2 linked regions of the Homo sapiens genome follow. The protein of the gene in region 1 purifies or fractionates together with the protein of each later gene. This does not show direct contact. Each region holds a gene or a part of one and is shown in the gene's direction. Other genes may lie near its edges. The genes, in order: ZDHHC22 and ARL6IP5.

Region 1 (4,563 bases):
CAGCCTCCCTCCCTGCCAAGCCCATGTGAGAGGCAGACAGAGCTTGTGAAAAGGGGCCCAGACGGCCACGATTATGAGACAAAGCTGCTCTGAAGGGAAAAGGGCCATGTGTGCCTCCCCATGTCTGTCCTGTGGCCACTGGAACTCACAAGGCTACCAGCTGCTCACGGCCACCATGTGGCATATACTGTTCTTTCACTTACATGTCAGATCCTTTTAGAATGTGAAAAGGTTTCCTGGCCTCTTTTTTATTTTGATGTATGCTGATAAATTACAGAGGAAACAGTGTGTGGTTATTCAAGAATAGAGGCTGAGCTGATCAGCATATGGCCCTCATTTCAAGGGATTGCTCTTGTTTTAATCAGCCAGTTGAGAAAGCAATAAATGTTTATTTATTAAGTATGCCATCACCGAGAGGAGAGGAACAGGGCAGGTAGGTGAGCTGCGACACCCAGGAAATTGAGGATGGTGATGGCACCAATATTCCTGCAGTGTTTGATGTTTTTAAGGCTCTGCTCCCCCCACCCCCCACTGTTTGATACACATTGGTGTCACTACCCTCTTGGCGCATCACAGTACCCACCTTAGAATAGCGGAGCCCTGGAAGGGGAAGGAAATAGAAATAAGAAGGTGGGGGTGAGGCTCAAAGAAGAAGCTCCAAGTTCAAGCTCTGTGTCTGGATAAACTCCCATTGTCTTTCCTTCTCTCAAATCAGAGCTGCCCGTGGGTCCCAGGGTGATGCTGGGCTGTGTAGAGGCTGAGTGCAGGAGCATTAATGCTAGAACCAGGTTCAAGTCCAGGCTCTGTCACTTAATGGCTGTATGACCTTAGACATGAGACTTAGCTTCTCTGAGCTTCAACCTCCTCATCTCCAGAATGGGGCTCAGCCAGCTTCACAGATCAGGCTGAGAGGATTAAGGAAGCATCTTATGCTAAAGGCTTAGCACAATGCCTGCTACCTAGTAGGGGCCCGATAAGTAGTGTCTAATTATGATCTAATCAAGCAGTGCTTGCCCTGGGCAGGCCCTGTTTAAGGGTTTTACATAGATTGTCATTTAACCCTCATATCTCTATTTCACAGATGAGGAAACTGGAATCTAAGATCACACTGGAATTTACAGACGAAGAAACTGGAATCTGAGATCTCACAGTAGTGAATGGTGAATATTCAAACCCAGGTAGACAGGCTCCAGAGTCCCAACTCCCAACCCTCTGTACACAGCCCTTCCGAGGAGATGACGCTGATCTTCATGGGTGTTGCCCTGGCAAGCTGACCTCTCAAGCCCCCAGGGTTCCTTCAGTCCGAGTGGAGAGCAGGGAAGGTCGTGGGACCTAGCCGAGAGGGAAGGGCAGGATGATGGCTGGAGAATCCACATCAGGGCTGAATCCCAATCTCCCAGCTGGAACGGGCGCTGAAACCAGGCAGGGCGCCCCAGCCCGCTCAAGGGGAATCGAGAGGGGAGGAGGGGGCAAGTCCACGATGCTGAGACTGGCGGCCAGAGCACCGCCCCCAGGAGCGGAGGGAGGGGTGGCGGGGCTGGGGGGTGCCCAGCTGCCATCCCCGCCGCTTCCTGGCCCTTACTCGCTGGCGCCCAAGTGGGAAGCCAGCAGCTGCCCGCTCCCTCCTCCCCACATCCCCGCTACTTGCCCAGTTCCCGAAGCGAAGCGCAGGCTGCGAGCCAGCCGGGCCGAGTCCACAACTTTGCAGCCTCGGGCAGGGCGAGAGCCGGCGTCCGGGGCTCCTCTTGTCGGCGACCAGAGCTCGGTGAGTTGATTTCCTCACCCCTCTGCGACGGCGGCAGTGCGGCGGCGGCGGCGCGGGGGGCGGCTTCCCGTGCGTCCGGGAGGCAGTGGCCGAGAAGCCCGCGGCTGCCGGCGCTGCCGGTCTTTCCAAGGCTCCGGCTGTGCCGCCCTCTGCCGCGGGCGAGGCGGGCGCCAGGGCTGAACGGACAGCTCCCTACACCCCGGGGCCCCACGGGCGGTCTCTGCTGTCCCTTCTCCCGCGCAGGGCCAGGGCTGAGGCTGCCTGCCGAGCGCCCCTCACTCCCCTAGCCCCTGTCCTTCGCCGCCTTCCCAGCGCTGCGGCGCATCTGGCTGCTCCCGCGCCCCCCTGGCGACCGGCGCCGGGAAGGCACTTGCTTCGCCGGAGCCCCAGGCCGAGGGCTCTCTGGGGTGGGCAGCACCGCCGCAGCCCCCGGCGGCGCAGGACTGGGGGCGTGCCCAGCCCCCGGCGACCACCCTCAGGCGTGCACTGCGCTGCGCCCCAGCGGTAGGGAGAGGCCCACGCTCTCCGCGGAGGCTGCGGGTTCCCGGGGGGCGCTGGGACCTGCAAAGGGGATTCCAAGGTGACCAGTCGACCCGTGCGGACGGGACAGCCTGGACGGAGGCCCCGTGGCATCCACCCATCCTAGGTGCAACCGCCTTCCCAGAACTTTTCTCGCGCCTCCGGCTGGCCGATTCCTTAGCCCCTGGAAAAGTTCTCTCGGGCGCACGGAATCCTATTTCTCGGTGGCTTCCGAAGCTGGCCAGGAACCCCGGCTGTGAGGCGTGGGGTGGGATGGGGACGTGGTGAGGGCTGAGCACGGCGGCGGGGTCGATCCCAGGAAAGGCTGGCCAAGCATCCACTCGTGCGCCCAGGGCGGGCTTGTCGGCATGGAAAGGATTTCGGCGCCATGAGGGTTGTTTGGGTTTCTCTCAGCAGGAGGGCGGGAGGCGGGCGCGAAGGGGGGATTTTAATTTCGCCTCAAATGAAAACGCTCTTCGCAAAGAAATAGCCCGGGCAGCCAGCGTTGGAGAGATGTGCTGGCCAGGACCCGCTGACACAGGTATTCTGGTTGCGCCCCCACCTCACCCGGTGCCCGAGAGCGAGTGTGAGTGTATCGATTGTTTCAATTGATTTTTTTAAAGCTAGATAGCAGAGGCTGCGTGTCTGTACACGCAGATATATACATACACAAATACAGATACTCAAGCGCACACAGATTACACGTACAGAGTCACAGACAAGGACACACACACACACATCGTGGTCCCTCACGCACACATACCTCCAAAGAGCCTTGGGTAACCTGGTGAGGTCCCTGAGTGCTGCCCAAGATGTGTGTGTGGGTGGGGACGCAGGGACGGAGAAAGGGGAGTGTGAAGCAGGATTTCCAGCAGGTCAAGTGCCGCTGATTCTCCTGCCCCCGACCCCAAATCCTTCCCTTTCTCCTCCTAGGGAGGTCTGAACCAGAAATCCCAAACCTGGGCTTGTTTCCACATCCACAGAGGGGAGGAGTCCTATCCCCCGGTGCCCCCCACCCTCACAACTCCTAAAGACTGCAAACGAGTCCCTCCCTCCTGTGCCAGACTCTGCCGCGCCAAGGCGCCGAGCTCGCTCAAAACCCCAGGCAACACTCACCCCCAGGTGGGGCCTAGACCCGAGGCCGCTGCGGGCTCGGGTCTCTGGCCTGCCTGATCCGGGGTTAGGGAACTGGGGAGGGGAAATCCGCGGGACAGGGGGTTGGGGGCGTGGAGTCGCGTGCAGTGCCCCAGACGCGCGGCACGGAGGAGCGGGCGAGGGCGCCCCCTGGACGCCGTAGTCAGTCAGTCCTCTTCTCACCCCGGGCCCCGCAGGAATGTAATCGAGGATGCTGGCCCTGCGGCTGCTCAACGTGGTGGCCCCCGCCTACTTCTTGTGCATCTCCCTGGTGACCTTCGTGCTGCAGCTCTTCCTCTTCCTGCCCAGCATGCGCGAGGACCCCGCGGCCGCCCGGCTCTTCTCGCCCGCCCTGCTCCACGGGGCGCTCTTCCTATTCCTCTCGGCCAACGCCCTGGGCAATTACGTCCTTGTCATCCAGAACTCCCCAGACGACCTGGGGGCCTGCCAGGGGGCCTCGGCCAGGAAGACTCCATGCCCCTCACCTAGCACCCACTTCTGCCGAGTGTGCGCCAGAGTCACCCTGAGGCACGACCATCACTGTTTCTTCACCGGCAACTGCATCGGCAGCAGGAACATGCGCAACTTCGTCCTGTTCTGCCTCTACACCTCCCTGGCCTGCCTCTACTCCATGGTGGCCGGCGTGGCCTACATCTCCGCTGTCCTTTCCATCTCCTTCGCCCACCCCTTGGCCTTCCTCACGCTCCTGCCCACCTCCATCAGCCAGTTCTTCTCCGGTGAGTGGGCCTTGGCGGGCAGGTTGGGCTCTACACAAAGACCTCCCACCCCAAAGGTTGCCGGGCCCCAAACCCCAACCCCAAAAGTTGCCAGATTTAGCAAATAAAAATACAGACCGTCCCGCTAAATTAAAATTTCAGATAAACAACTCATAATTTTTTAGTATAATTATGTCCCAGATATTGTATGAGATACACTGAGAAAATTTGCTATTGGCTATCTGAAATGCAAATTAAGCGGACATGCTGTATTTTATTGGTAACATCCCCCCTTGCCCCCATCATTCTCATCCATCATGCTGTCCATATGCTCACAGAGTTGTGGCATCCAGGTAATACACCTGCTCTGTGCCAGGCAGGACTAGGTGCTGGCCATTCCTCCATGTAGCCCCATGAGGTACAACCATG
Region 2 (3,809 bases), on another chromosome or scaffold:
TGGAGTGCAATGGCACCATCTCGGCTCACTACAACCTCCGCCTCCCAGGTTCAAGCAATTCTCCTGCCTCAGCCTCCGAGTAGCTGAGATTACAGGCTCCCGCCACCGAGCCCAACTAATTTTTTGTATTTTTAGTAGAGACAGGGTTTTACCATGTAGGCCAGGCTGGTCTTGAACTCCTGACCTCAGGTGATCTGCCCGCCTCAGCCTCCCAAAGTGCTGGGATTACAGACATGAGCCACCATGCCCAGCCCAGGCCCAGCTAATTTTTGTATTTTTAGTAGAGGTGGGGTTTCACCACGTTGGCCAGGCTGGTCTCAAACTCCTGACTTCAAAAGATCCACCCACCTTGGCCCCCACAAAGTGCTGGGATTACAGGCTTGAGCCACTGTACTCAGCCTAGAAACTTCTACTTCTGAGCTATCTAACTTATATGATAAATCTACCTAACAGACAATGCATTATGTATTACAATTGCTTTTACCCACTCAATATATAATGTCTTCCCATATTATTAAATGCACTTCAATGTTTTAAAAATAGCTGTGTATACAATACCACAGCTATTGGTATTGTTGGCCATATAGGTCGTTTCTGAAAGTTTTTAATCATAAATACCACTAATATCAATACTGTTACAACTCAATCTTTGCGTTTTTGTTTAATTCCTTAGACTATATTCTGAGGAGGGGATTTATTGGCTTGAAGGATACAAGTATTTGCAAGGATTTTGAATGAAATTAGCAACTTATTATTGTAGAGTTTAGTTTTAAATTATGTACAACTGGCTGGGTGCGGTGGCTCATGCCTGTAATAGCACTTTGGGAGGCTGAGGGGCGGGGGGGGTGGGGGGTGGATCACATGAGGTCAGGAGTTCGAGACCAGCCTGGCCAACATGGTGAAACCCCGTCTTTACTAAAAATACAAAAATTAGCTGGGCATGTTGGCGGGTGCCTGTAATCCCAGCTAGTAGGGAGGCTGAGGCAGGAGAATTGCTTGAACCTGGGAGGCAGAGGTTGCAGTGAGCCGAGATCGCGCCATTGTACTCCAGCCTGGGCAATGAGTGAAACTCCATCTCAAAAAAACAAACAAAAAAAAATTATATGCAACTACTCTTACCACTGTTTAGCTTTGTGCATCTTAATAGAAATTTTTAGCTTTTTCAAAGCAGTTTGACATTGATTTTATCCCTTAATTTCACCCATTCAGGTGTGAAAAGCTTTTACTCTTAATTTTAAAATGTTCAAAATTCCTTTTATGTTTCAGTAGGCAGAAACAGAGCTAAAATTTAAAGGGATTTTTGAAAAAGAATTGTATTTATCCTGAATACGAATCCCAATATGAGCATGAGTTCTTCATCTCTTCCATTTCAGAGAAAGTAAGCTCTTGGCATCACCCTCCCTTATCCTGTCTTCCCCCTTCCCTCATTTCAAATCAGCAATGTTACTATTCAGGGCATGAGGAGAACACACTATCGTCTGTGTCCTTCCCAAGTAAAGTCCTCATTAGCCTCTAGGGTAAAAAGTTAAGTAACTCATTGTACCAGCCCACCACAGACGTCTTGTTAAGGGTTTTGTATACACAGTGGATTGGGGTGGGCGACTATAATGCCCAAAACTTTGTCTAAATTTCTTCTTCTTATTATCATTATTGAGACAGAGTTTTGCTCTTGTTGCCCAGGCTGGAGTGCAATGGCGTGATCTCAGCTCACTGCAACCTCCACCTTCTGAGTTCAAGTGATTCTCCTGCCTCAGCCTCCCAAGTAGCTGGGATTACAGGCATGTACCACCACGCCCAGCTAATTTTTGTATTTTTAGTAGAGATGAGGTGCCACCATGTTGGCCAGGCTGGCCTTGAACTCTTGACCTCAGGTGATCCACCCACCTAGGCCTCCCAAAGTGCTAGGATTACAGGTGTGTGCCACCATGCCTGGCATAAATTTCTTCTACATAATGTGTTTCCTCCATTATCAATAGTAGTGTAATTGCTATTACATACTAAACATTTGGCTTATATAAGAATGAATCTGGAACTGTGTGCTTGAAAATCTGCATTGGTAACTCATCTCCTAATGATACTTTGGGCATTTTAAAACACTTATAATGAACTCTCTATGTGAGGAGTCATAAACTCAAATGCCTCCATGGGGCAGGCAGGTTATGTAAGAGAGCGATTCAGGCCAGCTATTAGAAAAACAATGATTAGACTGGGCATGGTGTGGCTCATGCCTGTAATCCTAGCACTTTGGGAGGCCGAGCTGGGCAGATCACTTGACGCCAGGAGTTCAAGACCAGCCTGGCCAACATGGCAAAATCCCACCTGTACTGAAAATACAAAAAATTAGCTGGGCGTGGTGGCATGTACCTGTAATCCCAGTTACTCGGGAGGCTGAGGCACAAGAATTGCTTGAACCCAGGAGGCAGAGGTTGCAGTGAGCCAAGATTGCGCCACTGCACTCCAGCCTGGGTGACAGAGCAAGACTCTGTCTCAAATAAAAAAAAAAAAAAAAGAAAAACAGTGATTAATAGCACCTCACTTTGGGCCTATGTGTCCATGATGCAGTAGAGAGCAGTGTGGACTGGAGCTCAATGGAGACTGTTTATTCTGTCTGAATGAGAAGGCACTCAAGCCAGCTGTTGACATGTGGGAAAGTGGGCCTAGCACTGTTATTTTCTTGTTCCAGGAGAACAAGAAATCCCAAGTTTTCTGGATTTTTTTTTAACACATGGGTTTCAAGTAAAAGTTTTTTAAAACACTGTACAGGCCAAACAAAAATGTGACTGTATACTGGATCTAGCCCATGGAGGCCATTATGTGGCCTGTATTCTACATTCGTCCATCATGAGCTTCTCTGAGGATTTAAATAAACCTTTAGAGCTAAGAAAACACAACCTACTGTGTACTAGAGCCCAGGATGTAAGGAAGCTAAACATAGTACCTTCAAAAGAAGTTTTAGTCTTCAAAATTGTGGACCTCTAACGAGATACTTTGATGGGAACTGCCTGGGTGTGATCTCAGCTCCACCTTTTTTTTTTTTTTTTTTTTTAATGAGATAAGGTCTCACTCTGTCACCCAGCCAGGAGTGCAGTGGGGGAATCTTGGCTCACTGGAGACTCAACCTCCCAGGTTCAAGTGATCCTCCCACCTCAGCCTCCTGAGTAGCTGGGAACACAGGTGTGTGCCACCACACCTGGCTAATTTTCATATTTTTGTAGAGATGGGTTTTGCCATGTTGCCTGGGTTGGTCTTGAACCCCTGGGCTCAAGTGATCCTCCCACCTTGGCCTCTGAAAGTGCTGGGATTATAGGTGTGAACTACCATTCCTGGCCTTCCCCACCATTTTCTAACCTCTGTGCCTTAGCTTCTTCATTTGAGAAATGAACTAATAGTATCTCCTTTATAAGGTTATGAGAAATCAAATGAGACAATTTAGATAAAGTATTAAAGTATTAGTAAGTTCTCAATAATTGTTTTTACTCCTCTTTCTCCTTTTGCTACTTCTATTGCTGAACTAGTCACCCCTCATTTTTTCTTCCTCATATTTCAGGTTTCTGAGTCCCTTCAACATGATCCTGGGAGGAATCGTGGTGGTGCTGGTGTTCACAGGGTTTGTGTGGGCAGCCCACAATAAAGACGTCCTTCGCCGGATGAAGAAGCGCTACCCCACGACGTTCGTTATGGTGGTCATGTTGGCGAGCTATTTCCTTATCTCCATGTTTGGAGGAGTCATGGTCTTTGTGTTTGGCATTACTTTTCCTTTGCTGTGTAAGTGAACTTGAGTTTTTTCTTCCATCATCAAAAAAATGTAG

The links.
Region 2: the proteins of ZDHHC22 (region 1) and ARL6IP5 purify together in Homo sapiens (affinity purification with mass spectrometry; one large-scale study listed by BioGRID and IntAct). This does not show direct contact.

Annotation. Positions count from the first base shown.
Region 1 is NC_000014.9:77,138,805-77,143,367, reverse strand, and holds the start of ZDHHC22 (palmitoyltransferase ZDHHC22), read left to right. Parts: upstream 1-1,576; 5' UTR 1,577-1,765; intron 1,766-2,623; exon of another isoform or gene 2,624-2,825; intron 2,826-3,615; 5' UTR 3,616-3,629; coding exon 3,630-4,155; intron 4,156-4,563. UniProt on the Homo sapiens protein: Palmitoyltransferase that could catalyze the addition of palmitate onto various protein substrates and be involved in a variety of cellular processes. Catalyzes the palmitoylation of KCNMA1, regulating localization of KCNMA1 to the plasma membrane.
Region 2 is NC_000003.12:69,098,292-69,102,100, forward strand, and holds part of ARL6IP5 (PRA1 family protein 3), read left to right. Parts: intron 1-3,547; coding exon 3,548-3,765; intron 3,766-3,809. UniProt on the Homo sapiens protein: Regulates intracellular concentrations of taurine and glutamate. Negatively modulates SLC1A1/EAAC1 glutamate transport activity by decreasing its affinity for glutamate in a PKC activity-dependent manner.